Linked DNA regions of Homo sapiens. The protein of the gene in region 2 interacts with the protein of the main gene of each other region in a biochemical or structural test. Each region holds a gene or a part of one and is shown on either strand. Other genes may lie near its edges. The genes, in order: TOP1, RBL2, RAF1, SKP2, RINT1, PHB1 and USP4.

Region 1 (3,500 bases), on a different chromosome or scaffold from region 2:
CAAGGAAGAGAAACTGGTACTACAGAATTTATTAAACCTCTGGAGAATTCTGGAATTGTGATTGGTTCATTTAACTTTCTTCTTGGTTCTTATGACACAACATTAACATCAGTAATTTCACATCATTCTATGCTAAAGACTTAGAGTTCTCAAAGTCTAAATTTTCTTAAAGGTTTTAGTTAGACTGAAAATTGTGAACAAGTACTTTGCTCAGTAGCTCTGTACAGGAATCTTGGTGCTTCAGTGACCTAAAAACCAGTCAGTAACTCCAGCCAATAATATAGTAATTAAGGATGGGCAGACCTGTCCCACAGTGGCTACTGGATATTAAGGATTTAAGACAGATGAAATCATATTGGCCATGTACCTCCCTGCTCTTTGATCTATTTTACTCTGGAATCTTGTGATGCTCATCCATCTCCATCTTCCAGCCTTGGCCATCCTCATTACTGAAGGATCTTTCTGGTATCCAGCTGGGATGTCATTTTTCTTCTACAGGCTGCCTGTTTTTGTAAAAAAAAAAAAAAAAAATTTATTGGAACCAGCTGCCTCTACTTGTCTACATATTATCTACGGCTGTGTTTATGCAACAATGACAGAGATGAGTAGTTGCAAAAGAGAGTAGTTGCAAAAGAGACTGTGTGGCACTCAAGCCTAAAATATTTTCTATCTAGAAAAAGTTGTCAGCCCCTGAACTAAAGGAATCCAGGCTAGAATTTCATTTTTACCAATCGGAAGTCCAGAAGTTAAGGATTTTAAGGAATTCTTTGCACTTCAAATTCCTGTAGTTTCAGTATTTTAAAGGACTTGCGTGTTTACGTAATTCAGACCATTGTATTGATATAACTCATTGTTTCATGGTACTTATTTGGTCACTAGTTTAAAAATTAATGCATTACTATAAGAATGTTAATTGCATCAGACTTTGTGTCTCAGGTAAATCTTATCCTCAATATTCCAAGTTAGTGAAATTTAGTATATTATTTACTTCAGGGGCATTTTGAAACTTAAAAGATCACTTTGGAGCTTTGTTCTTAGAATATTGATCCAAAGATAGATTTTATAAACATCCCCTTGTCAGAGCCTCTGCCAAGGACACCTGCTGCCAGCAAGGTCTGAATCTGTTCCCACCCACAAGGCAGCACAACTTAGTTAAACTGAATCAATAAGTATATAAAACGCAGAGTCAATAGAGGGTAAGGAGGCTCAAAATCTCCCCCACCATCCCTCACCTTTTTGGAGCAAGGATCATAGTATAGAGTGTATATACCTGTATACCTACAAAAAAATTAGTGACAGATCTGTCTGAGCTTAAAAACCCACGTTTTTAAGCTGTTTAACTGCTGTTTAATTAAATGGCTTGAGCTATTCTTTTATGAGGCTCTATCAGAGACTCTTCTCCATTTCCTGTTTTGATAGTACTCAGTAAAACAGTATGAATTTTTAAAGTACATTTAAAAACACCCAAATAACATTTACAAACATATATCCTTTAAGACACAAGAATCAGTTTTGAATCTAGTTGAAATCAATCCTTATAGGCAGATCTTTTTGGGGAATTTTATGATATTTAAGTTTGAGAAAACCACTAGAGGTTTTCCTTTATTTGAATTTATTTTTTAGTGATTTTTCAGACTTTCCTCTACCTTGACTTAGTCTCCCACAAGAGATAAAATGCATTAGTAGAGAACAGCAATCTGAATCTATTTTGAGTACTTTCTTGCTGTCTTCCAGAAAATCAAAGAGGAGAATGAAAAATTACTGAAAGAATATGGATTCTGTATTATGGATAACCACAAAGAGAGGATTGCTAACTTCAAGATAGAGCCTCCTGGACTTTTCCGTGGCCGCGGCAACCACCCCAAGATGGGCATGCTGAAGAGACGAATCATGCCCGAGGATATAATCATCAACTGTAGCAAGTGAGCTCGCACTTCATCCTATGGGCCAAAAAGGGGGTGGAGGGCGTCCTTTATTGTACTTGGGAATATTTCCCAGGTTACACAGGACTGTTTGGGAAGGGAGATACTTAAGAGCAGGACAGTATTTCATGCGTAGGTCTCCAGATGTTTTTGAGGTACAGTTGTCTCCCCTCATCCACAGGGGATATGTTCCAAGACCCCCAGTGGATGCCTGCAACTTCGACCCAATTGCTGTCACTTGGAACACATTTCTGTTGATGTCTTCCACCCCCAAATTTAATGTCTTTTCCATGTTTATTAAGTACTTATCACATAGAGTGGCTATAACTTTTGCAGTCTGAGGCACAACAGCAAAACTAGCACGACTTTCTTTTTCCTTCTTCACAATTTCACAGATGGAAGGTTAATTCTTACCTTAGATCTTAGCAACTTCACCATACAGTTTTTTTTATTAAGTCGATAATTTCCACCTTTTCATTTAAAGCACTCTGTGCAGCTTCTGTATGGCATATCCAAATTGCCAACATCACCACTTTCACACTTTGGGGCCTTTATTAAGTAAAAGAAGGATTACTTGAACACAAGCAATGTAAAACCATTAAAGTCAACCTGATAAATAAGGCAGCTACTAGGTTACCCATGGGCAAGTGACATATACAGCATGGTATGTTGTATATATGGTTCACGCATCCCAGGTGGGACTACAAGAGATTTCATCATGCTCCTCAGAATGATGTGCAATTTAAAACTTACAAAATGTTTATTTCTGGAATTTTGTATTGAATATTTTCGGATGACAGTTGGCTGAGGGTAAGTAAAACCATGCATAAGGTGGGACTACTGTATTGACTGTTAAGAAGGAAACTTGGAAAATTATGCTCAGCAGATAGGTCCACTTGGGGTCATGAAAGGTGAAATTATTCCTCACATCTTATTTCACTATCCTCGTGCTCTGTTATTTCCAGAGATGCCAAGGTTCCTTCTCCTCCTCCAGGACATAAGTGGAAAGAAGTCCGGCATGATAACAAGGTTACTTGGCTGGTTTCCTGGACAGAGAACATCCAAGGTTCCATTAAATACATCATGCTTAACCCTAGTTCACGAATCAAGGTAAGGGGATAGTTGAGAGCTGCACTGGTTCATGGTGCTGATAACCTTTTTTTGTTGAAATGTAACGTTCTCGTCCTCTAGAATCACTTTGACAAATTAAAAATCCTCCCCATTGAAAGAAGGCAAGTACTTTCATAGTTAGCATTATGGTGATCTTCCTACAGTGCCTCCATTTTTTTGGTCACATTGTAATCTTATTTATTAATTCACAAATATTTACTGAAATCCCAAATGTGCCCCACACAGTATACATTTGATGCTAGGAATTATGTTGGTAAACAAGATAGACGTAGGCCCTGCCTTCATATTGCTTAACGTCCAGTGGTCAGAATGTGTTGAAGTATGGTGATTGTATATTGGCCTCTGCAGATGTCTTCTACTTCCTCACCTCTCTTGGTTATGAGAAGGGAATGTAGTTTCTGTATATCCTGAAACAAGTTGTAAAATCTAATGTCTTACATACTTCTG
Region 2 (3,500 bases):
GGCTAGTTTTTTAAAATTGTGGTTATATATATAACATAAAATTTACCATTCAACCATTTTTAAGTGTATGATTCAGTGGTACACAACCCATTATGGCTTAGTCTATTTTTAAGTATTCACACCAATGTCTGAATTTTTGAGAAGCATTTCTTCCTTCTTCTGTGTCCACTTCTAAGAGCTGTGCATCAGAGTGTTTTTAAAATTTAAAATATACATAGAAAGTTTGTAAGAAGTACTGATAGGAGTAAATCCTAACAAACTGTGGCTTAACATTTCTATTTCCAGATGATACAAAAGTAAATAAACTTACTAGATTTGTATTTGGTACAAAGCTGCAGAATCAGAAAGAATAGATTATGATCATTTTTTCTTATAAAATATCAAGAGATCTCAGGAAAACTGAGAAGTGGTAAGTACAAAGAAAATGAAGTTTAAAGTCAAGTCTTCCTAATCTGTAGATTAGGGAACGGAAAATTCTACAAAAATAGACTAAGAAAGACCAGCTGTCAGATCTTTCAAAAATGAGGACTTTTCATAAGGATCATCCATGTGTATTAAGTATACACTTAGAGTGATTTTTTTGGGGGGGTTGGGGGTAGAGATGGTATCTTGCTATGTTGCCCAGGATGGTCTTGAACTCCGGGGCTCAAGTGATCCTCCCCACTAGGTCTCCCACAGTGCTGGGATTACAGGCATGAGCCACCATGCCCAGCCTAGAGTGAATCCTGACTTTAAAACTGGTATTCCTTCTATAGCCAGTTCTTATCAATTACATTATAAAACTGATCTAGAAATAAGAATATTCTTTTAATTGGATCCAAGGATTTAGAACTCTCTGGATTTACTGAATTGCTCTTTAAAAAAGTAGTTCTATCTCACATATGTAAACTAAAACCTTTCACCTTGCAGATCTTCTAAGCAGCTGCCTAAAAAATACAAACCAGATAGATAGCAAAACTGCCCTTTTCTGTATTTCTTGGGCCAGCACTAATGTCACATTAACTAGGGTAGCACAGCTCAACAAAGTGGAACATACTCAGTTGTCTTAACTCACTGGCTTGTCTATACCTAACTGGATCATGCAGCTCTATCTTTAAGAAGGCTTTTCTATTTCTGATTTTAAAAGTAATATGTATTTGCCTTAAAAATTTTACAGAAATCACCAGGAATTCTATCACCCAACAATGATCTTAACAGTTTGGTTTTTCCATTTCCACTATTTTGTATGCTCATAAATAAACATACACTTTAAAAATAGGGATCATATTAAATATACAGCAGTCAGCCGGGCACGGTGCCTCATGCCTGTAATTCCAGCACTTTGGGAGAACGAGGTAGGCGGATCACTTGAGGTCAGGAGTTCAAGGCCAGCCTGGCCAATATGGCAAAACCCCTTCTCTACTAAAAATACAAAAATTAGCTAGGCGTGGTGGCGCATGCCTGTAGTCCCAGCTACTCAGGAGGCTGAGGCATGAGAATCGCTTGAACCCGGCAGGCAGAGGTTGCAGTGAGCTGAGATTGGGCCACTGCACTCCAGCTTGAGTGACAGAGCAAGACTCTGTCTCAATAAATAAATAAATAAATAAAGCAGTCTATCCTTTTTAAAAGATACCTGTTATATCATGCATTTTCCTGTGTTCTTAGTCTTTAAAGGCCCTTCTTTTAAGTGATCCATGTGGTACAAAAATGCATAGAATATTTTCTTCTATGTATACCCTATTAACTTCACTTGTAGGGTTAGATGAAATTTAAATTTCCAGATAGTAAGCCCCAAAATATTCTCCTAGTATTTTAAACTTACTCCTTCCAAGTCCTCCAGTATCAGCACGAACTTCAGTCACCCTTCTGGGAGTCAAAGGGGAGCCAGCAATGCAAATTTCATCTGCCCTTTCCAGGTTCTGAGGTGGCATGACCTATGAAGAATTGGTTACACAGAATGCCAGTATCCAAAAAAGCACTTTAATTACAAATACAATAGTAATCTAAGGCAGAAAAAGTATCTTAACAATTATTCCATCTAAATAAAATCAGCTGTCTTTCCCATTTTAATAATAAAGTTAAAAAAAAAACTTTTGGCAGTCAAAAAATTCAAAACCTTGTAATTGGATACTAAATATGAGTCAAACTTCATTACTGGTTTGGAGAGTTTGAATATCAACCACTCTAAAGCAGGAGTCCCCAACCCCTGGGCCATGGACCCTGTTAGGAACTGGGCAACATAGCAGGAGGTGAGCAGCAGGCAAGTGAGCATGCGAGCAAAGCTTCATCTGTATTTAAAGCTGCTCCCCATCGCTCACATTGCCGCCTGTGCTGGCCTCCTGTCAGATTAGTGGTGGCATTAGATTCTCACAGGAGTGTGAACCCTATTGTGAACTGCACACATAAGGGATCTAGGTTGCATGCTCCTTATGAGAATCTAATGCCTGCTGATCTGTCACTGTCTCCCACCGCCCCCAGATGGGACCATCTAGTTGCAGGAAAACAAGCTCAGGGCTCCCACTGACTCTACATTTTGGTGAGTTGTATAATTATTTCATTATATATTACCACGTAATAATAATAGAAATAAAGTGTGCAATAAATGTAAGGCAGTTGAATCATCCCAAAATCTCTCCAACCCCCAACCCTGTCCATGGAAAAATTGTCTTCCATGAAACTGGTCCTTGGTGCCAAAAAGGTTGGACCACTGCTCTATGGGAAAGAAACTTGGTAAGGAAATCAAGAAAGAACACTGAATTTTTACTCTGTCACCAAAATCTTAGGACAACCACAAATTATCTGACTCGTTTCCTCTTTGACATGGGGTGAAATGTGACAGGTCACCTACCTTACTTAAGGGTGTATGTCTGCTGCCTAAACCCTGAAGGCTAGGCAGTGAGCCAAGGCCATGGTGCCCAGCCAAGGAACAGGTGTCCCTGAGAACCCCAACATCCCAGAGAAGATCTGAGAAACTACCAAGGAAAACAGTCCCATCGTGCACACACATAGTAGGCAAAGAGCCAGAAAATTAGCTTAAAAGCAGCTTAGCGATGGGAGGTGGCGAGGATCTCTAGAGCTGTCCTGCTGCTACCTAGGAGTACCCTGTATATAAGTCTTTTATTTTTCCCCACCACCTCTGCCTCCTCCATATGTAAGTCTTAATAAACGTTATCTACTTACCAAGCTGGACTTGTCTGAGTCATTCTTTGGTCTCTTGGCACCTTCCCAATTTGTGGGTAGAGAGGGACGTTACAGTCCAAGATTTTTCTCATAACAAGGTGTAATTATAACATATTAAACCTAATTGCCACCCTCCCATCCCCAAAAGGATTATTAATAGATTAGATATTGATGTATTTTTCTCATAAAAAGATGTTATTTTCACAAACCTCTTCACATGTAGGAACTCTGTTTTCATTGTCTCTAATTTTTTCCCAGAGTGGAGACTCTGGTTTCCATGCCAAATGATCTAAGATCTGTTCTTCAATCTGATTAAGGTGTTTTACCACCTCTCTACAAAG
Region 3 (3,500 bases), on a different chromosome or scaffold from region 2:
ATTCTGAAACTAGCTAGGTTTGGTGGCATTCATACTCCAGAATGAGCAGGTAGGAGTAGGACTTGTTATCTGTCAAATTGAGATTGACATACTGTGACTGTGATTCAGTAAGGAAAGGAGCAAAAGGATATGAAAACAAGAAGATTTTTTGCTTTTCGCTCTTAATAGTATTATCTACTGGGGTTGCTAGTAGACACTGCTCTGTATTTTGTTGAATATGCTGAATGAGCCTTTGACATTGAGAAGGAGCAGAAAGCACCGTTGATGCTATTTTCTTCACTTCAAACTGGAGAAAACTTAGTTGTTTGGACTTAAAATTGTTTGAATATAAAATCTTGAAAGATTCTTGTTTCTTTCAGGAGACAATATATTTCATATAGATAAAATGTTATTAAAGAATTTAAAGTTTACATTAAAAGTACATGGTCCAAACTGCCTTTTAAAAACTGTAACTAGGTATATGAAAAGTTTAAAAGTTTTGTCCTTTTTTGACAGTACTAGAGAAACCAAGGGAGTGTTATTATTAGACCATGATGAAAATGTTTTTGCTTTCATGGTCACTTACGTATTGATTTTGTGATGAGAGCTTGAGTAGCACAAATGGCACAAGCTTTTAAAATTTATCTTATTTTTGTCCCCCACCCTTTTTTTTTTTTTTTTTTTTTTTTGGAGACAAGTCTCTTTCTGTCATTAGGCTGGAGTACAGTGGCATGATCTCGGCTCACTGCAACCTCTGCCTCCCAGGTTCAAGTGATTCTCCTGCCTCAGCCTCCCGAGTAGCTCAGACTACAGGCACACACCACCACGCCCAGCTAATTTTTGTAGTTTTAGTAGAGATGAGGTTTCACCATCTTGGCCAGGATGGTCTCGATCTCTTGACCTCATGATCTGCCCACCTCGGCCTCCCAAAGTGCTGGGATTACAGGCATGAGCCACCACGCCCAGCCTTTTTTTTTATTATTATTTTTTAAAGACAGGGTCTCGCTCTGTCTCCCACAGTGGAGTGCAGTGGCATGATCACAGCTCACTGTAGCCTCGACCTCTCGGGTTCAAGTAATCCTCCTACCTCAGCCTCCTGAGTAGCTGGGACTACAAGTGTATGCCATCATGCCTAGCTAATTTTTGTATTTTTTCTAGAGACGGGGTTTCAGCATGTTGCCCAGGCTGGTCTCGAACTCCTGAGCTCAAGCAATCTGTCCGCCTTGGCCTTCCAAAGTGTTGTGGTTACAGGTGTGAGCCACCGCATCCGGCGGCACAAGCTTTTGAGTCTAACAGACATATGTCAAAATCTCAGTGTTGTCATTAACCATAACCACATCTGAGTTTTCGTTCATGCATCTGAATAAAGGGGATATTACCTTCCTTGCATTGTTCTTATGAGGCTTGCTGACATAACCTGTGAAATTACTAAGCACAAGTGCCCACCTCATGGAAAAAAGGTGCCTAATTACTCACTTTTCTGTGATTTATTCCTTCTATTTTAGTCTTTTATCTATGCATTTTCAAGATGGAATGTTTCCAGAGAAGCTGTGTGTGACATAGTTTGTGAAATGTTATACTGTAGTTTGAAAAATATTATTTTGATATAGCTAGACACAGGACCAGTATTTCCTAGAAATGCACACTGGGCCGGGCGCGGTGGCTCACGCCTGTAATCCCAGCACTTTGGGAGGCCAAGGCAGGTGAATCACCTGAGGTCAGGAGTTCGAGACCAGCCTGGCCAACATAGTGAAACCCCGTCTCTGCTAAAAATACAAAAATTGGGGGAAGGGATAGCATTAGGAGAGACACCTAATGTTAAATGACAAGTTACTGGGTGCAGCACACCAACATGGCACATGTATACCTATGTAACAAACCTGCATGTTGTGCACATGTACCCTAAAACTTAAAGTATAATTAAAAAAAAAATACGAAAATTAGCTGGGCATGGTGGTGTGTGCCTGTAATCCCAGCTACTTGGGAGGCTGAGGCAGGAGAACCCGGGAGGTGGAGGTTGCAGTGAGCCGCCATTACACCTCTGCACTCCAGCCTGGGCAACAGAGTGAGACTCCATCTTAAAAAAAAAGAAAAAGAAAAAGCACACAGGAGCCTGTATGTTTATTGGCAGGTCAGTATTATTCACATTCAATAATCATTCAAATCCAGTTATTTGGAATATTGTTCCCTTTATTCTAGGTAATGTAAAACAGTTGAGGAAAATGTGACTGGGAAAAGTTCAGTTTTAGTAGCTCTGAGTTTGCAAAAGCAAGGCATGCTGATTGTCTCTGTAAGATTACTGCAAGCCTAAAAACCAGTCTTTCCCTGCTTTTGTTTAGATTGTTTCCAAATTCCACTATTGGTGATAGTGGAGTCCCAGCACTACCTTCTTTGACTATGCGTCGTATGCGAGAGTCTGTTTCCAGGATGCCTGTTAGGTAATTTTTTACCTATAGCTTTTCTTTTAGAAAGTTATTTGGGGTGGTGGGGTTGGAAGCTTGAAGACAAAAAATAAGAGTTTCTTCGCATTCCCTCCTCTCTACGTGGAAACCCCTTGCTGCTTCTGTGGAACTTGATACTGGTGGTACAGAAAAGGTAGAAATTTCTGTTTATGGACCTGTAGGTCTTACATTCTGGAAAGTGACTTTGACTGTAGCTTCTTCTGTTATCATAGCATATTTCTTAATATGTCATTACATTTTAAAGAGCTTGAGATTCTGCTTTCCTCAGTATGTACTGAGTTCAACCTCAATGGAAAGGGTCCTAAAACTTAATACAGTGATTTGATAAAAATAAAACCCTTAACTTTGAAATGCATGTTGTGGCCGATGCATTTGCTAAAACCATGTATTTAAATAGACTAGTGTCTTTAAAAACATTTAATTAGATTTTCAGCATAAATATTGTTTCTCATGTGTCTCTGAGTTTGCATATAACTTGTCTTTCTTTACTCTGTTTTCCAGCTTTATAATCAGTTTTGTTGCGTTTATCTACTGCTCAGTGTTAACACACATGAATTTGAAACCTAAAGTAAAATCTACATCCAAAATATCTTACTTTAGGCCAGGCACGGTAGCTCACACCTGTAATCCCAGCACTTTGGGAGGCCGAGGCAGATGGACCACTTGAGGTCAGGAGTTCCAGACTAGCCTGGCCAACATGGTGAAACCCCATCTCTACTAAAAATACAAAAAACTGGGTGGGTGTGGTGATATGTGCCTTTTGGCCCAGGTACTTGGGAGGCTGAAGCAGGAGAATCTTGAACGTGGTAGGCAGTGAGCTGAGATGGCACCACTGCACTCCAGCCTTGGTGACAGAGCAAGACTCTGTCTCCAAAAAAAAATATATTATGTATACACACACACACACACACACACACACACACACATAATGTGTAATCAGATAATGTTTAATGTGAAAATACTATGGAAATATTAAACGCAGCATATCTTAGAATAAGGAATTTGCATATATCTGGATATATATTTCTGTATGGCTTTTATTTTTCTTGATAATTTGAA
Region 4 (3,500 bases), on a different chromosome or scaffold from region 2:
TAAGATATCCTTAAGAGAGTGGCACACTTTTGTATCTTTCTTGCCCAGACAGAAATCCATTTTGGCCTCCAAGGTATTGGTATTGACACCAGATCAGCACTGCTCTGGTTGTCTTGAATCTCATGCTTGATGTTTCCTCTTGCAAGAAGGCAAACTATAGCTTAACCAGCATTCAATAACAACAACCTGGGAGAAGTTTTGGAACAATTCATTTTCTTTCCAAATAATATACATTTTTTAGGAAGATGAACACCTCACAGAAAAATGAATTTGGGAGCTACCTGAACCCTAAGCCAAGCATAACTAGATATGGTATGATGGTTAAGACCGTGGAGTTAGCCAAACTTTAGATTCCTGCCTTTCCACTTATCTCTCAACCTACTATTCCTGACCCTGCAGTTTCCTCACCTCTGAAGCTGAGATGACACAAACACCATCACTTAAAATCATATGGAGGATTAAATTGCAAACACTGCACCTGTCACAAAGCAAGTGCTTAATAAATGTCAGTAATTACTTTTATGACAACTGAGATGAAGTTTAACAGACTCTAAGGGAGATGTAGGTCAAAGAATACAAAGCCACAGATATGCAGGATGAACACATCCCAAGATATAGTATACAACAGGAGAACTAGAGTCGATAATACTGTATTGTAGTCAGAATGTTTGCTAAAAGAGTAAATTTTAGGTGCTTTTGCCACAAAAAATAGGTAACTATGTGAGATAATGAATATGTTAATGATAGCAGCCATTTCACATACTTATAACAAAATATCATGCTGTATACCTTAAATATATACAATAAAATTTTAAAATGGGATTAACAGACTCTGCAAGAAGAGGATAAATGCATAGCTGGCAGAAAAAGAAAACCAAAGTGGGGTTGAGTGCGGTGAGGGTAAGTGAAACTTGCCTGCCACTTGCACCAGCATTCCAGGTGTGCAACCCTCTCTGCGGCTCTTCTAAGCAAACAACCCACACCTGTAAATAGCAGCACGCCCTTGAAGGCAAGAGGCTCCTGCTATCTCACACAGGGAGTTCTAAGTATGTGGAGGGAGAAGCCAGACGGATGGCCTTTAAACACAAAGCAAAGAATGACCAGGAGGTAGGATAGGGATGAGAAGGCATGAAGATAGTAAAAAGTTCCAGTTGATAAACATAGCCTTTTTCTTGCTCCAGGCCTGTTATTGCCTTTCCAGCTCACCAAGTCTTTCCACATGCAACTCACCTTCCACACTTGAAAAGTGTTGCCAAAAAAAGAGCACAACCCCACCAATGGCTACTCTGTGTGGAACATGTCTGTGAGTCAGGCATTACACCAGCATCTTCACATTTCATCCTCATAACCAGTGGTTTCCTCCTCATAACCATTATCCCCATTTACATATGGGGAGACTGAGGCTCAGCAGTGTCAACTAACTCACTCAGGTCATGCAGAGCGTAAGCAGCAGAGGCTGGGTGTGCACTCGGGTCTAACACCAAGCCTGTGTTCCCTCTCCCTATTGTGCTCACTGCTCAGCCCAGCGGCGTGAGGAACCGCTGTCTGCATGCACCTCTGTAACTCTCTCCGCACTTAAAGCACACCGCCTGGCCTACAGTCAGCATCCCATAAACACATGCTGCACTGAATACAGGGCAAAGAGGTTTCCAGACATTGGTAAGTTTATCCCTCCCAGGAAATTCCTCTTCCACTGTGAAATGAGGACACTGATTAATAAAAATATGAAGATACCTAGTTTGCTTTGCGCTGCTCTATTTTTCTTGGTTTTTAGTTTCATCAGACCAAAACGAATAAATAACCTTCCTCTCCTCTTCCTCCCCTACGTTTGCCAAAGGGGTGAAAAATACTTACGCTAGGCGATACCACCTCTTACAAACACCAGAGACCTTTAGCAGCTCAGGGAGGCACAGACAGGAAAAGATTCCCAAGAGCAGCTCATCCGGAAGGGAGTCCCATGAAACACCTTTGGAGGGAAAACAAGTGTTTGCCATCACCATTCTTTCACCCTATCAAGTCTACTGAGTCTTTTCAAACACATAAAGAATATACAACATTTAGCTTAAATGAGGAATTTAGCACAAATTAAATTACTCATCCTCACAATTATTTTTGTTTGAAAAATCATTTCTGTTGAACAGAAAAATAATTGTGGTGATGAGTAATTTAATTCGTGTTAAATTCCCCATTCCATCATCTATGTACCCTGAAGTGACCACCACACTCTCTCAGCAAATCAAAAAGAGAAACCCAGAACACTTTTCCTATTCTTCCCTTCAGCTCTAGCCAGCCAATCGGAGGCTGTGGCATGAAGAGTGGTACAGAGCAAGTCCCACCCTCTCAAATGTCATTCAATGACATTGTCAATTCATTGACATCAATAAGATATTGTGGTGCTTCTGGGTGCAAAGGAAGGCCTTGTTTCTCTCTGATGTGGACTCAGTAGTGACCTTATTTAAAAGGCAAATAAATCTTCTTCCCTTTCTGCTATGGTTGGCTGTGTCCCCACCCAAATCTCATCTTGAATTGTAGTTCCCATAATCCCCATGTGTTGCGGGAGGGACCCAGTGGGAGGTAATCAAATCATGGGGACGGTTACCTGGTGATAACCGCCCCTGTAATTTGATGCTGTTCTGGTGATAAGTGAGTTCCCACAAGATCTTATGGTTTTACAAGTGGCTTCCCCGACCCCTTTGCTCTGCACTTGATGCCGCCATGTGGAGAAGGACGTTTGCTTCCCCTTCCACCAAGCTTGTACGTTTCCTGAGGCCTCCCCAGCCAGGCTGAACTGTGAGTCAATTAAACCTCTTTCCTTTATGAATTACCCAGTCTTGGGTATGTCTTTATTAACAACATGAGAACAGACTAATATGCTTTCTTTCAGGTTTACAAAAGGCACAGTTTACCTAAAAGAGCAATACAAAAGGGTATTGTCATTTCTTAATTCAACAAATATTTACTGAGCTCCTACTATGGTGCCAGGTATCATTTTAGGTGTTGGGAAGGAGTAGTAAATCAGACCCAAAACACTACCTTCGTGGGACTTCATTCCAGTAATGCGGAACAGATAATCACACATCAAAAAATAAGTACATTATATGATATAGTAAAATTGATCTGTGCTGTGCAGAAAAATTAAACAGGGCAAGGGAGAGAACAGAGAGTTCAGAGCAGATGTTATTAAGTTTGAACATGGTGGTCAGGGAAGGCCATACTGAGATGACGATCACTAAGCAAAGGCTTGAACAAAGTGAGGGAGTGAGCCCTGTGAGTATCTGGTGTACGTGTTCTAGATCCAAGGAACAGCATGTGTGTTTGAGGCATAGCAAGGAGGCCAGTGTAGAGCGCAGAGGTAGGTGGGTAGAAAAATCAGAGAGCAGCCAGGTCATGCAGGCTTCCTAGGTCATGATAAAGCCTTTGGCTTTGACGCTGAATTCTATGAGGCACCACTAGAAGATTCTGAGCACAGGAATGACAGGCCCTCACGTAAGTTCAAAAAG
Region 5 (3,500 bases), on a different chromosome or scaffold from region 2:
TTTTTAGTAGAGACGGGAAGGGTTTCACCAAGTTGGCCAGGCTGGTCTCGAACTCCTGACCTCCGGTGATCCACCCATGTTGGCCTCCCAAAGAGGCCACCACGCCTGGCCTCTTTTTCTTTGAGACGGAGTCTCACTCTGTTGCCAGGCTAGAGTGCAGTGGCATGATCTTGGCTCACTGCAACCTCCGCCTCCCGGGTTCAAGCAGTTCTCCTGCCTCAGCCTCCCGAGTAGCTGGGATTACAGGTGCCCACCACCATGCCTGGCTAGTTTTTATATTTTTAGTAGAGATGGGGGATGGGGAAGGGGGGGCGGGGGGCGTTTCACCAAGTTGGCCAGGCTGGTCTCAAACTCCTGACCTCCGGAGATCCACCCATGTTGGCCTCCCAAAGTGCTGGGATTACAGGGTTGAGCCACCAAGCCCCGCCTGGAATTATATTTCTTTGAAGTGGGAAATCAAGTTCAGCTGGGCAAAGTATGTAACAATTGAAGACCATCATACTTGACTTTACCAGATACTACCACATTATTCCCTTGGATTAAGATACTGAAGACTTTGTAAAAGGCAGATTTATCAGAAATGAGTGGTGCCCAAAGGAATATGACACAAAACAGGTCTGTCAGGAGGAGTAGGAAGGGAAAGGTCCCGGGAGAGGTCTTGAACATAGGCTGCAGGCTGCTGCTCTTAGAAGAATGCAGAAGTAGAGGACTCTAGGCTCCCAGAGAGGCCTTGGTAAAAGGCCTCAGGGTGGTGCTTTGTTAAAAAACAAAGGCTACCTCAGGGTGGTGCTTCATTCTTCCTTGGATGTAACTTTATATAAAACATGAAGAAGAAGCACTTTTTCCGAATTTGAAATTATTCTGAGCAATCCGTTCTTTAAATTTGCTTTCGGCTGGGCACGGTGACTCACGCCTCTAATCCCAGCACTTTGGGAGGCCGAGGCGGTCGGATCACTTGAGGTCAGGAGTTCAAGACCAGCTTGGCCAACATGGTGAAACCCTGTCTCTACTAAAAATACAAAAAATTTAGCCAGGCATGGGGGCGCATGCCTGTAATCCCAGCTACTGTGGAGGCTGAGGCGGGAGAATCACTTGAACCTGGGACACAGAATTTGCATTGAGCCAAATCATGCCACTGCACTCCAACCTGGGCAACAGAGTGAGACTCTGTCTCAAAAGAAAAAAAAATTTGCTTTACTTTGTTTACAGTGATAACATTCAGCAATATCTGATGACCAATAATGTACCGGAGGCAGCCTCCACTCTAGTGTCTATGGCAGAACTTGACATTAAACTTCAGGAATCATCTTGTACTCATCTTCTTGGTTTCATGAGAGCCACAGTTAAATTCTGGCATAAAATTCTCAAGGACAAGCTTACAAGGTAGGGAATTTACCCATATTTTGTGGTAATTGCTTTCCGATGGGTATTTGGTGATCATTTGGTGATGTACTGAAATGTATGTGTTACTTTTCCATTGCAGTGATTTTGAGGAAATTTTAGCACAGCTTCATTGGCCATTCATCGCACCCCCTCAATCACAAACTGTTGGCTTAAGTCGACCTGCCAGTGCCCCGGAGATATACAGTTACCTGGAGACACTGTTTTGTCAGCTTTTGAAACTACAAACCTCGTATCTTTGTTGCAGCTGAAAACTTACTAAAATTTCTTTTTTCTAGAATGGGTTTGTGGCTAGAGAGTAAAACTTTTTCAAAGTGGCCAAGAAAGCCAAATAAGAATCCTGTGTTTGGACTTGGTCTGTAAATGTCCACTGAGTGGTGGACTGTACTCTTGCAAAGTGAATTGCTTGTAGGTGTGAGGGCTGTAAGGAAGAGTTCCGGGATACATGACTGATCCAAGTTCATAGCACAAAAAGGTCTCTTGGGGCAACAGAACAAATGGGCAATTGGGAGGAAACCTTTAGTGTCATAGCGTGAATTTAATCAAATGATACTTGAATTTTTTTTGTTACTATTTTAGGAAAGATTTATAGATTAATTCTAATACCATTTTTGTGCTTTTTTTTTTTTTTTTTTGAGATGGAGTTTCGCTCTTGTTGCCCAGGCTGGAATGAAGTGGCGTGATCTCATGATCTCGGCTCACCACAGCCTCCACCTCCCGGGTTCAAGCGATTCTCCTGCCTCAGCCTCCCGAGTAGCTGGGATTACAGGCGTGCACCACTATGCCCAGCTAATTTTGTATTTTTAGTAGAGACGGGGTTTTTCCATGTTGGTCAGGCTGGCCTCGAACTCCTGACCTCAGGTGATCCACCCGCCTCAGCTTCCCAAAGTGCTGGGATTACAGGTGAGAGCCACTGCACCTGGCTCATTTTTGTGCTTTTTTTAAAGACATGGTCTCACTTTGTCACCCAGGCTGAAGTGCAGTGGTGCAGTCATGGCTCACTGCAGCCTTGACCACCCAGGCTCAGTTGATTCTCCCACCTCTTCTTCCTGTGTAGCTGGGACTACAGGCACGTGCCACCATGCCCCGCTAATTTTTGTTGTTTTTTGTAGAGATAGGGTTTTGCCGTATTGCCTAGGCACGTCTCAAATTCCTGTGAAGTGGCCCAAGTGATTAGCCTGCTTCAGCCTCCCAAAGTGCTGGGATTACAGGCATGATTCACTATCATCATGCCTGGCTTTTTGTGCATTTTAACTGAATGTATATTCAATATAAAGAATTAACTGTATGTTTATTCAATATAAAATTAGGTTACATATTATTTGCATCATAATTAACTCTACTGAGTATCTGATACATTTGTTGGAAAAATTTATTGTGTGTGTATACATACATATGTGTGTGTATATTAGGTATGCTTTTGATTCTTTTTCCTTGACTTGATTATGTCAGAGATGAATTACTTACTGAGCCAAAGCAACTCCCAGAAAAATACTCTCTTCCTGCCTCCCCTTCTGTCATCCTGCCCATCCAGGTTATGCTGACTCCTCTTCAGAAGAGGTTCAGGTATCACTTCAGAGGGAACCGGCAGACTAATGTGTTAAGCAAGGTGTGTTTTGCCAGCTCTTGTCCTTGGTTTTTATTGGTAACAAATGTTAGAGTTTCTATACCTTTGCTGGTTTAAGTTAAAATCTGACTCTCTTCACATTTCTGTTTTTTTTCTAAAGGGCTACATTCCTGTTTTGTTACTGCTGTTCATACATATAATTGAGGACTTGTGTTCATATACTGTAGGAAAAATGGTATTTCCGCTCTTGGGCATCAGATATTGCTGAGTTATCATTGCAAAACAAAGCAAAGCAAATAGTAAGCACTTGGTATTTCTTTTCTTTTTTTTTTTTTGTGAGTTGGAGTCTCGCTCTGTCACCCAGGCTGGAGTGCAGTGGCACAATCTCTGCTCACTGCAACCTCCACCTCCCAGGTTCAAGCGATTCTCCTGCCTCAGCCTCCCAAGTAGCTGGGACTACAGGCACATGTCACCACACTGGACTAATTTTTGTAATTTTAGTAGAGATGGGTTTCACCATATTGGTCAGGCT
Region 6 (3,500 bases), on a different chromosome or scaffold from region 2:
GATGAGAGGATTTTTATGACATGTCATTGTCCTTTCTTCCTAGTGGATGCTGGGCACAGAGCTGTCATCTTTGACCGATTCCGTGGAGTGCAGGACATTGTGGTAGGGGAAGGGACTCATTTTCTCATCCCGTGGGTACAGAAACCAATTATCTTTGACTGCCGTTCTCGACCACGTAATGTGCCAGTCATCACTGGTAGCAAAGGTGAGTCTTGCCTATGGTTCAGGTAAAGTAGGGAGTGTGGAAGAGGTGCTCTGTTCTTCTGTGTCACAGGAGCATCTGTGGGATACCAGGATCCAAAAGAGTTTGAACTGTACATCATAGGAATGACTAGACTACTTGCCCTGGAGAGCTTGATATGGAATCTTAGAAATACCCACTTATGGCTGGGTGCGGTGGTTCATGCCTGTAATCCCAGCACTTTGGGAGGCTGAGGCAGGTGGATCACCTGAGGTCAGGAGTTCAAGACCAGCCTGGCCAATGTGGTGAAACCCCATCTCTCCTAAAAATACAAAAATTAGCCGGTGGTGGGGGGTGCCTGTAATCCCAGCTACTTGAGAGGCTGAGGCAGGAGAATTGCTTGAGCCTGGGGGGCGGAGGTTGCAGTGAGCTAAGATTGTGCCACTTCACTGCAGCCTGGGCAACAGAGTGAGACTCTGTCTCAAAAAAAAAAAAAAAAAAAGCCTGCTTCTAATCTTCCCATCTCTTTGGAATTTCTTTCCGTACTGTTTTGCAGTTGTTTTCAGGATACATTATGTACCTATTTCTAAAACTATTGATAGGAGCTTCCAGAGATCAGGGAGTTGTAGGTATTAATACATTGCCCACCTCTCTTGGTGCCCAGTTCAGGGCTGTCTCATGGGCGCTTGGTCCATATTGTTGACATCTGTAAGCAAGCCGTGACAGTGCTTTGGCTCCAGGCAGGCCTGAATTGTCCAGGGGAAAGTATAATTCTCTCCCTGGATCCTTTAAATGGTCCAAGTAATGAGAAGCAGAACATAGGATCAGTCTGTTAACCCCTTATATGTGTTACACATTTGACAGAGTGCTTTTACGTCTGTTTTCTCCTTCAATTTTCCCCAACATTTCCGCAAGGCCCAGAAAGCAAATGAAATTGTCCCCATTCTCATAGACAGGGAAATAAGCTCAGGTTGGCTAAGGCTTAGAGAGGCCACATCATTAGTAAATAGCCCAGATCTTTGGACTGATAGTCTAACACCGTTTCCACCAGACCCGAACTAACCTCTCCAAGGCTGACTCCTGACTTGGCCACAATCACCAGAGCATGTAAAGGCCTCACCCTACAATTCTTAGCATTGCCCTGTCTATTGTCTTAAAATGTTCAGTGTTGCAAACTTTGCATGGCACCTGTTAGACATATAATCTGAATTATGTATATCTGAGGGCATTCAGGGGATACCAAAAAGCTGCTATCACTGAAGCCTCTTAAGAAATTATAAACTCTTTATGATGCTCTATTGGGTTCTCTGCCAAGGAAACCAGGCATACCTGCACCTTGCCCTCTGGGATCTTATAATCAGCAGATTTGCTTATAAATTGTAGCAAATTTGGAGCCAGGCACAGTGGTGCGTGTCAGCTACTCAAGAGGCTGAGGCAGGAGAAATGCTTAAGCTCAGGAGCTTGAGTCTAGCCTGGGCCACATAGCAAGACCTTGTCTCTAAAAATAAAAAATAAAAATTGCCAGGCGTAATGGCTCACACCTGTAATTCTAGCATTTTGGGAGGCTGAGGCAGTTGGATCACTTGAGCCCAGGAGTTTGAGACCAGCCTGGGAAATATGGCGAAACCCCAGCTCTACAAAAAGTACAGAGATTAGCTGGGCGTGGTGGTCTGTGCCTGTGTAGTCCCAGCTACTTGGAAGGTGTAGGTGGGAGGATCAACTGAGCCCAGGAGGTCAAAGCGGCTACAGTGAGCTGTGATCTTACCACTGCACTTCAGCCTGGGCAACATGTGACCCTGTCTCAAAATACATAAATAAAAATTGTAGCAAATTGGAGTAGGAGAGGTCATATAAAAGACCACTTGTGGCCAGGTGCGGTGGCTCACACCTGTAATCCCAGCACTTTGGGAGGCTGAGGCAGGTAGATCACCTGAGGTCAGGAGTTTGAGACCAGCCTAACATGGTGACACCCTGTCTCTACTAAAAATACAAAACAGCTGGGTGTGGCGGCGCGTGCCTGTAATCCCAGCTACTCAGGAGGCTGAGGCAGGAGAATTGCTTGAATCTGGGAGGCAGAGGTTGTAGTGAGCCGAGATTGTCCCATTGTACTCCAGCCTAGGCAACAAGAGCAAAAACCTGTCTCAAAAAAAAAAAAAAACAAAAAAAAAACACTTGTTTTCCTACAGTGGTTTTTATTTTTAACTCCAGTGTTTGTCCCCTACCCTAAGATTTACAGAATGTCAACATCACACTGCGCATCCTCTTCCGGCCTGTCGCCAGCCAGCTTCCTCGCATCTTCACCAGCATCGGAGAGGACTATGATGAGCGTGTGCTGCCGTCCATCACAACTGAGATCCTCAAGTCAGTGGTGGTGAGTGAACAGGGGCCTTTAGCCTCGAGCCCAGAGCACCACCCTGGGAGGGTGCCAGGTGGCAGGAAGCGCTTGGCAGTGGGTTGGTTGGGATGTGGCTGCTAGTTTCCTGGTTCCTTTTCTGCTTCCTCATTAACCTGACCTGCCCTTCTGCTCCTCCCTTTGAAACCAGGCTCGCTTTGATGCTGGAGAACTAATCACCCAGAGAGAGCTGGTCTCCAGGCAGGTGAGCGACGACCTTACAGAGCGAGCCGCCACCTTTGGGCTCATCCTGGATGACGTGTCCTTGGTAAGATCCTTCGGGAGACCGAGGAGGGGAAGGGGCTGCAGTTCTCGTTTAGGTGCCTGGCTCCATTTCTGGGTAGACGCTATTAGGTCCTCCCTTCTGCTTTGCTAGATGTGAGACTTGAAAACACGGAAACATGCTGAGGTGAGGCAGTCTCCGTGGGTTTTTCAGTTGAGGGTTCTTTTACCTTCCCCCTGCCACACACATTTTTCTTATGACCTCTGGTTGTATCCAGATAGTCTCTAACCACTAAATGTTTTACCTTCTCCAAACTGTTACCCAGAGAGTGATGCCTTGTTAACCCTGTTTGACACAGGCAGAAACTGCCTGGTAGAGACCAGAGAACAGCTCGGGTAGTCCTTCTCCCTAGCACAGACCTCCCAGCCTGACTCCTGGGAGCTTCCTAACACTTTACAGTCCGAAGCTCAGTGAAGTAAGCTCTGGGAACCCCAGTGAAAGGTGATAGAGTGTAAACGAACGGTTGGATTCCCCCAGGCCTGGTATAGGGGGCAAGGGACATCTCTGAGGCGTAAGCTATCCTCTTGAGACACTATAGCTTGTGTGTTTATATGACATTGGATGTCATAACTCAGAAAGCAATGCAGGCAGGATAGCGTTTCAGGTTGAGGAGGGTGAGGGGAAGGGGTCGTGTTTCTAGATTC
Region 7 (3,500 bases), on a different chromosome or scaffold from region 2:
CTCGGCCTCTCAAAGTGCTGGGATTACAGGTGTGAGCCACTGCGCCTGGCCTTGTGTGTACATTTTTGGAACTCCTTTGGTCCTTAAAGGAAAACTGAAGTGGGTGGTGTTTCTAACCCATTTTCAGAAAGAGCATTAGTTTAGTGCTGTTCATGTCAAGCAAAACAGTGTAACCAAACTGTCTGCCTGGAGTGGGACTTCTGTAAAGATCATTATGAAATTAATGACTTGTGGCCGGGTGCGGTGGCTCACGCCTGTAATCACAGCACTTTGGGAGGCCGAGGTGGGCAGATTACCTGAGGTAGGGAGTTTGAGACTGTCCTGACCAACATGGAGAAACCCTGTCTCTACTAAAAATACAAAATTAGCCAGGTGTGGTGGCACACACCTGTAATCCCAGCTACGGGAGACTGAGGCAGGAGAATCACTTGAACCCGGGAGGCGGAGGTTGCGGAGAGCCGAGATCACACCATTGCACTCCAGCCTGGGTAACAAGAGCGAAACTCTGTCTCAAAAAAAAAAGAAGTTAATGACTTGTTTATTAGCAAACATGATTTTACCCATGAAAAGACTCCATTTAGACTGAGTGTGGTAGCTCATGCATGTAATCACAGCACTTTGGGAGGCCAAGGCAGGAGGATCACCTGAGATCAGGAGTTCGAGACCAGCCTGGCCAACATGGTGAAACTCCATCTCTACTAAAAATACAAAAAAATTAGCTGGGCCTGGTGATGCATGCCTGTAATCCCAGCTACTTGGGAGGCTGAGGCAGGAGAATTGCTTGAACCCAGGAGGTGGAGGTTGTAGTGAGCCAAGATCATACCACTGCACTCCAGCTTGGGCAACAAGAGCGAAAACTCCGTCTCAAAAAAAAAAAAAAAAAAAAAAGAGGCCAGGTGCAGTGGCTCATGCCTGTAATCCCAGCACTTTGGGAGGCCGAAGTAGGCGGATCACCTGAGGTCAGGAGTTTGAGACCAGCCTGCCCAACATGGTGAAACCCCGTCTCTACTAAAAATACAAAAATTAGCTGGGAGTGGTGACAGGTGCCTGTAATCCCAGTTAGTCAGGAGGCTGAGGCAGGAGAATCGCTTGAACCTGGGAGGCAGAGGTTGCAGTGAGCCAAGATTGTGTCACTATACTCCAGCCTGGGCGACAGAACAAGACTCCGTCTAAAAGAAAAAAAAAGAAAGACTGCATTTAAATAAGCATTTTGAAACCACTTGTTTTCTTTCTTTTATTCACTCTTTGAACAATCATTTCACTTAATGGATGCATACCCTGGGCCAGACTCTCTGTGCCATGTGGGGCCTGGGCCCTGCTCTTGCTCTTGTGACAGTGTTTTTTAGTGGGTATTGCATATGCCCCAAGTGGAAGGACCATAAAAAAGATTAAGGAAGCAGCTGCAGAAATTTATAATCTCAGCTTTTCTGCTACAGTAAATTTCTGTCTCTCTCTAGGTATCTTATTGACAGCCGGTGGTTCAAGCAGTGGAAGAAGTATGTGGGCTTTGACAGCTGGGACATGTACAATGTGGGTGAACATAACCTATTTCCTGGCCCAATAGACAACTCTGGGCTATTTTCAGGTATAGTAAATGTTGCTTTTCTAGCTAAACATTCACCTGGGCAGTGGCCTGATGTTATGTGCATCTGTAACATGGACGTTGTGAACTTTCCTAGTGTGAGGAGATAGAAACAAGTATCCTCATTTTGCATCTATAGCAGAAGTCTTTGCAAACCCTTAATGAGAAGTTAAGCTACTTTTTTCCCTTAAATTAACTGCATCTGATAAGAGTATGCTTCTAACATTTTAACTTTCTCTCTTTGCAAATTAGTTCTGCTAGCTATTTCACATTTTAAGTTAGTATATGGAATGGAAAGAAATAGGATGTCATTTTGAAATTGTATCTAAAATTTAAGAACCAGAATTTTTTGTTACCTTTGCAGTGGAACAAATTGTAAACCTGTGAACTTTCATCAAGAATTCCTGTGATGGCTGTTTTTATCATATAACTAGTGTGAGGAGAGGTTGAAGGTCAGTAGACAGAGTTATGACTGTAGTCAGCTCCCAATGGGAACTGTGGGAAAAGCGACATGTAACACACTAGAGCTTGCTTGCACTTGTACATGCACTGAGATGACAGAGTCAGCTTTTCCCAGGCTTTCTTTTGCCTGACTTCAGACCTCTTTAAAGTCATGATAGAGGTGATCTGTCATGGGTGTCAAAAATCAGGGCAGTGCCAGGAGTGGTGTCTCACGCCTGTAATCTCAGCACTTTGGGAGGCCAAGGCAGGTGGATCACCTGAGGTCAGGAGTTCGAGACCAGCCTGGCCAACATGGTGAAACCCCGTCTCTACCATGTTGGCTAGGCTGGCCTTGAGCTCCTGGGCTCAAGCTATCTTCCTGCCTCAGCCTCCTTAGTCACTGAGACTACAGTGTTCTACCACTCTCAGCTGTTTTTTAAGTTTTTTGGTAGAGACGGGGTCTTGCTATGTTGCCCAGGCTGGTTGAACTCCTGGCCTCAAGCCATCCTCCCACCTTGGCTTCCCAGAGTGTTGGTGTGAGCCACTGTGCCTGGCCTAACTTGGATATTTTTAAAACTGAGCAATGCTTCAGCTCAGACCTTGTTTTAGGAGAGGTCTACATGGTATAAACAATATCATTTACTTTGTTTCCTGAAATAGGTCAAATGGTGGCACTATGCCACGAAGTTGCCCTAAGGAATCATTTCATTATGTTCACATTTTGTTCTTTTTCTCATTTTTATGAAATGGAGAATTCTTAAGGTTTTAAATTCAGGCATACTTTGGCTTATTGTGCTTTGCTTTATTATATGTTGCAGATACTGCATTTTTAGCAAATTTTGTAGGTATTTGGCAACGCTGCCTTGACAATCTGTCAGTTCCATTTTTACAACAGCATGTGCTCACTTCATGTCTCTGTTACCACATTTTGGTAATTCTCAAAATACTTCAAAGTTTTTCATTATTATTTGTTATGGTGATCAGTGATCAGGGAGCTTTCTTTTTTTTTTTGAGACGGAGTTTTGCTCTTGTTGCCCAGGCAGGAGTGCAGTGGCATGATCGTGGCTCATGGCAACCTCCACCTCTTGGGTTCAAGTGATTCTCCTGCCTCAGCCTCCCGAGTAGCTAGGATTACAGGCATGTGCCACCACGCCCGGCTAATTTTGTATTTTTAGTAGAGATGGGGTTTCTCCATGTTGGTCAGGCTGGTCTTGAACTCCCGACCTCAGCCTCCCAAAGTGCTGGGATTACAGGCATGAGCCACCATGCCCAGCCAACAGGGATCTTTCATGTTGCTATTGTAATTGTTTTGGGGCATCATGAAGGGAGCCCATGTAAGACAGTGAACTTAATTGGTAATTATTGTGTGTATTCTCGCTGCTTCACCAACCAGCCATTCCATCTCTCTCTCTCTCCTCAGGCTTTGCTATTGCCTGAGACACAATGACACTGAAATTCGGCCACTTAGTAACCCTAA

What was found.
Region 1: the proteins of RBL2 (region 2) and TOP1 interact in a test that uses a peptide from one of them, tested with the Homo sapiens proteins (one study listed by BioGRID).
Region 3: the proteins of RBL2 (region 2) and RAF1 form a complex in vitro, tested with the Homo sapiens proteins (one study listed by BioGRID).
Region 4: of the proteins of RBL2 (region 2) and SKP2, one has a biochemical effect on the other in vitro, tested with the Homo sapiens proteins (one study listed by BioGRID).
Region 5: the proteins of RBL2 (region 2) and RINT1 form a complex in vitro, tested with the Homo sapiens proteins (one study listed by BioGRID).
Region 6: the proteins of RBL2 (region 2) and PHB1 form a complex in vitro, tested with the Homo sapiens proteins (one study listed by BioGRID).
Region 7: the proteins of RBL2 (region 2) and USP4 form a complex in vitro, tested with the Homo sapiens proteins (one study listed by BioGRID).

Annotation. Positions count from the first base shown.
Region 1 is NC_000020.11:41,098,322-41,101,821, forward strand, and holds part of TOP1 (DNA topoisomerase 1), read left to right. Parts: coding exon 1-16; exon of another isoform or gene 17-503; intron 504-1,734; coding exon 1,735-1,922; intron 1,923-2,336; exon of another isoform or gene 2,337-2,471; intron 2,472-2,850; exon of another isoform or gene 2,851-2,887; coding exon 2,888-3,032; intron 3,033-3,500. UniProt on the Homo sapiens protein: Releases the supercoiling and torsional tension of DNA introduced during the DNA replication and transcription by transiently cleaving and rejoining one strand of the DNA duplex.
Region 2 is NC_000016.10:53,465,471-53,468,970, reverse strand, and holds part of RBL2 (retinoblastoma-like protein 2), read right to left. Parts: coding exon 3,369-3,500; intron 1,914-3,368; coding exon 1,802-1,913; intron 1-1,801. UniProt on the Homo sapiens protein: Key regulator of entry into cell division. Directly involved in heterochromatin formation by maintaining overall chromatin structure and, in particular, that of constitutive heterochromatin by stabilizing histone methylation.
Region 3 is NC_000003.12:12,605,118-12,608,617, reverse strand, and holds part of RAF1 (RAF proto-oncogene serine/threonine-protein kinase), read left to right. Parts: intron 1-2,318; coding exon 2,319-2,417; intron 2,418-3,500. UniProt on the Homo sapiens protein: Serine/threonine-protein kinase that acts as a regulatory link between the membrane-associated Ras GTPases and the MAPK/ERK cascade, and this critical regulatory link functions as a switch determining cell fate decisions including proliferation, differentiation, apoptosis, survival and oncogenic transformation.
Region 4 is NC_000005.10:36,162,111-36,165,610, reverse strand, and holds part of SKP2 (S-phase kinase-associated protein 2), read right to left. Parts: intron 1,967-3,500; coding exon 1,855-1,966; intron 1-1,854. UniProt on the Homo sapiens protein: Substrate recognition component of a SCF (SKP1-CUL1-F-box protein) E3 ubiquitin-protein ligase complex which mediates the ubiquitination and subsequent proteasomal degradation of target proteins involved in cell cycle progression, signal transduction and transcription.
Region 5 is NC_000007.14:105,545,701-105,549,200, forward strand, and holds part of RINT1 (RAD50-interacting protein 1), read left to right. Parts: intron 1-1,209; coding exon 1,210-1,383; intron 1,384-1,483; coding exon 1,484-1,633; intron 1,634-2,848; exon of another isoform or gene 2,849-2,853; coding exon 2,854-3,010; intron 3,011-3,128; exon of another isoform or gene 3,129-3,267; intron 3,268-3,500. UniProt on the Homo sapiens protein: Involved in regulation of membrane traffic between the Golgi and the endoplasmic reticulum (ER); the function is proposed to depend on its association in the NRZ complex which is believed to play a role in SNARE assembly at the ER.
Region 6 is NC_000017.11:49,408,383-49,411,882, reverse strand, and holds part of PHB1 (prohibitin 1), read left to right. Parts: intron 1-43; coding exon 44-205; intron 206-2,409; coding exon 2,410-2,552; intron 2,553-2,724; coding exon 2,725-2,841; intron 2,842-3,500.
Region 7 is NC_000003.12:49,333,554-49,337,053, reverse strand, and holds part of USP4 (ubiquitin carboxyl-terminal hydrolase 4), read left to right. Parts: intron 1-1,457; coding exon 1,458-1,585; intron 1,586-3,500.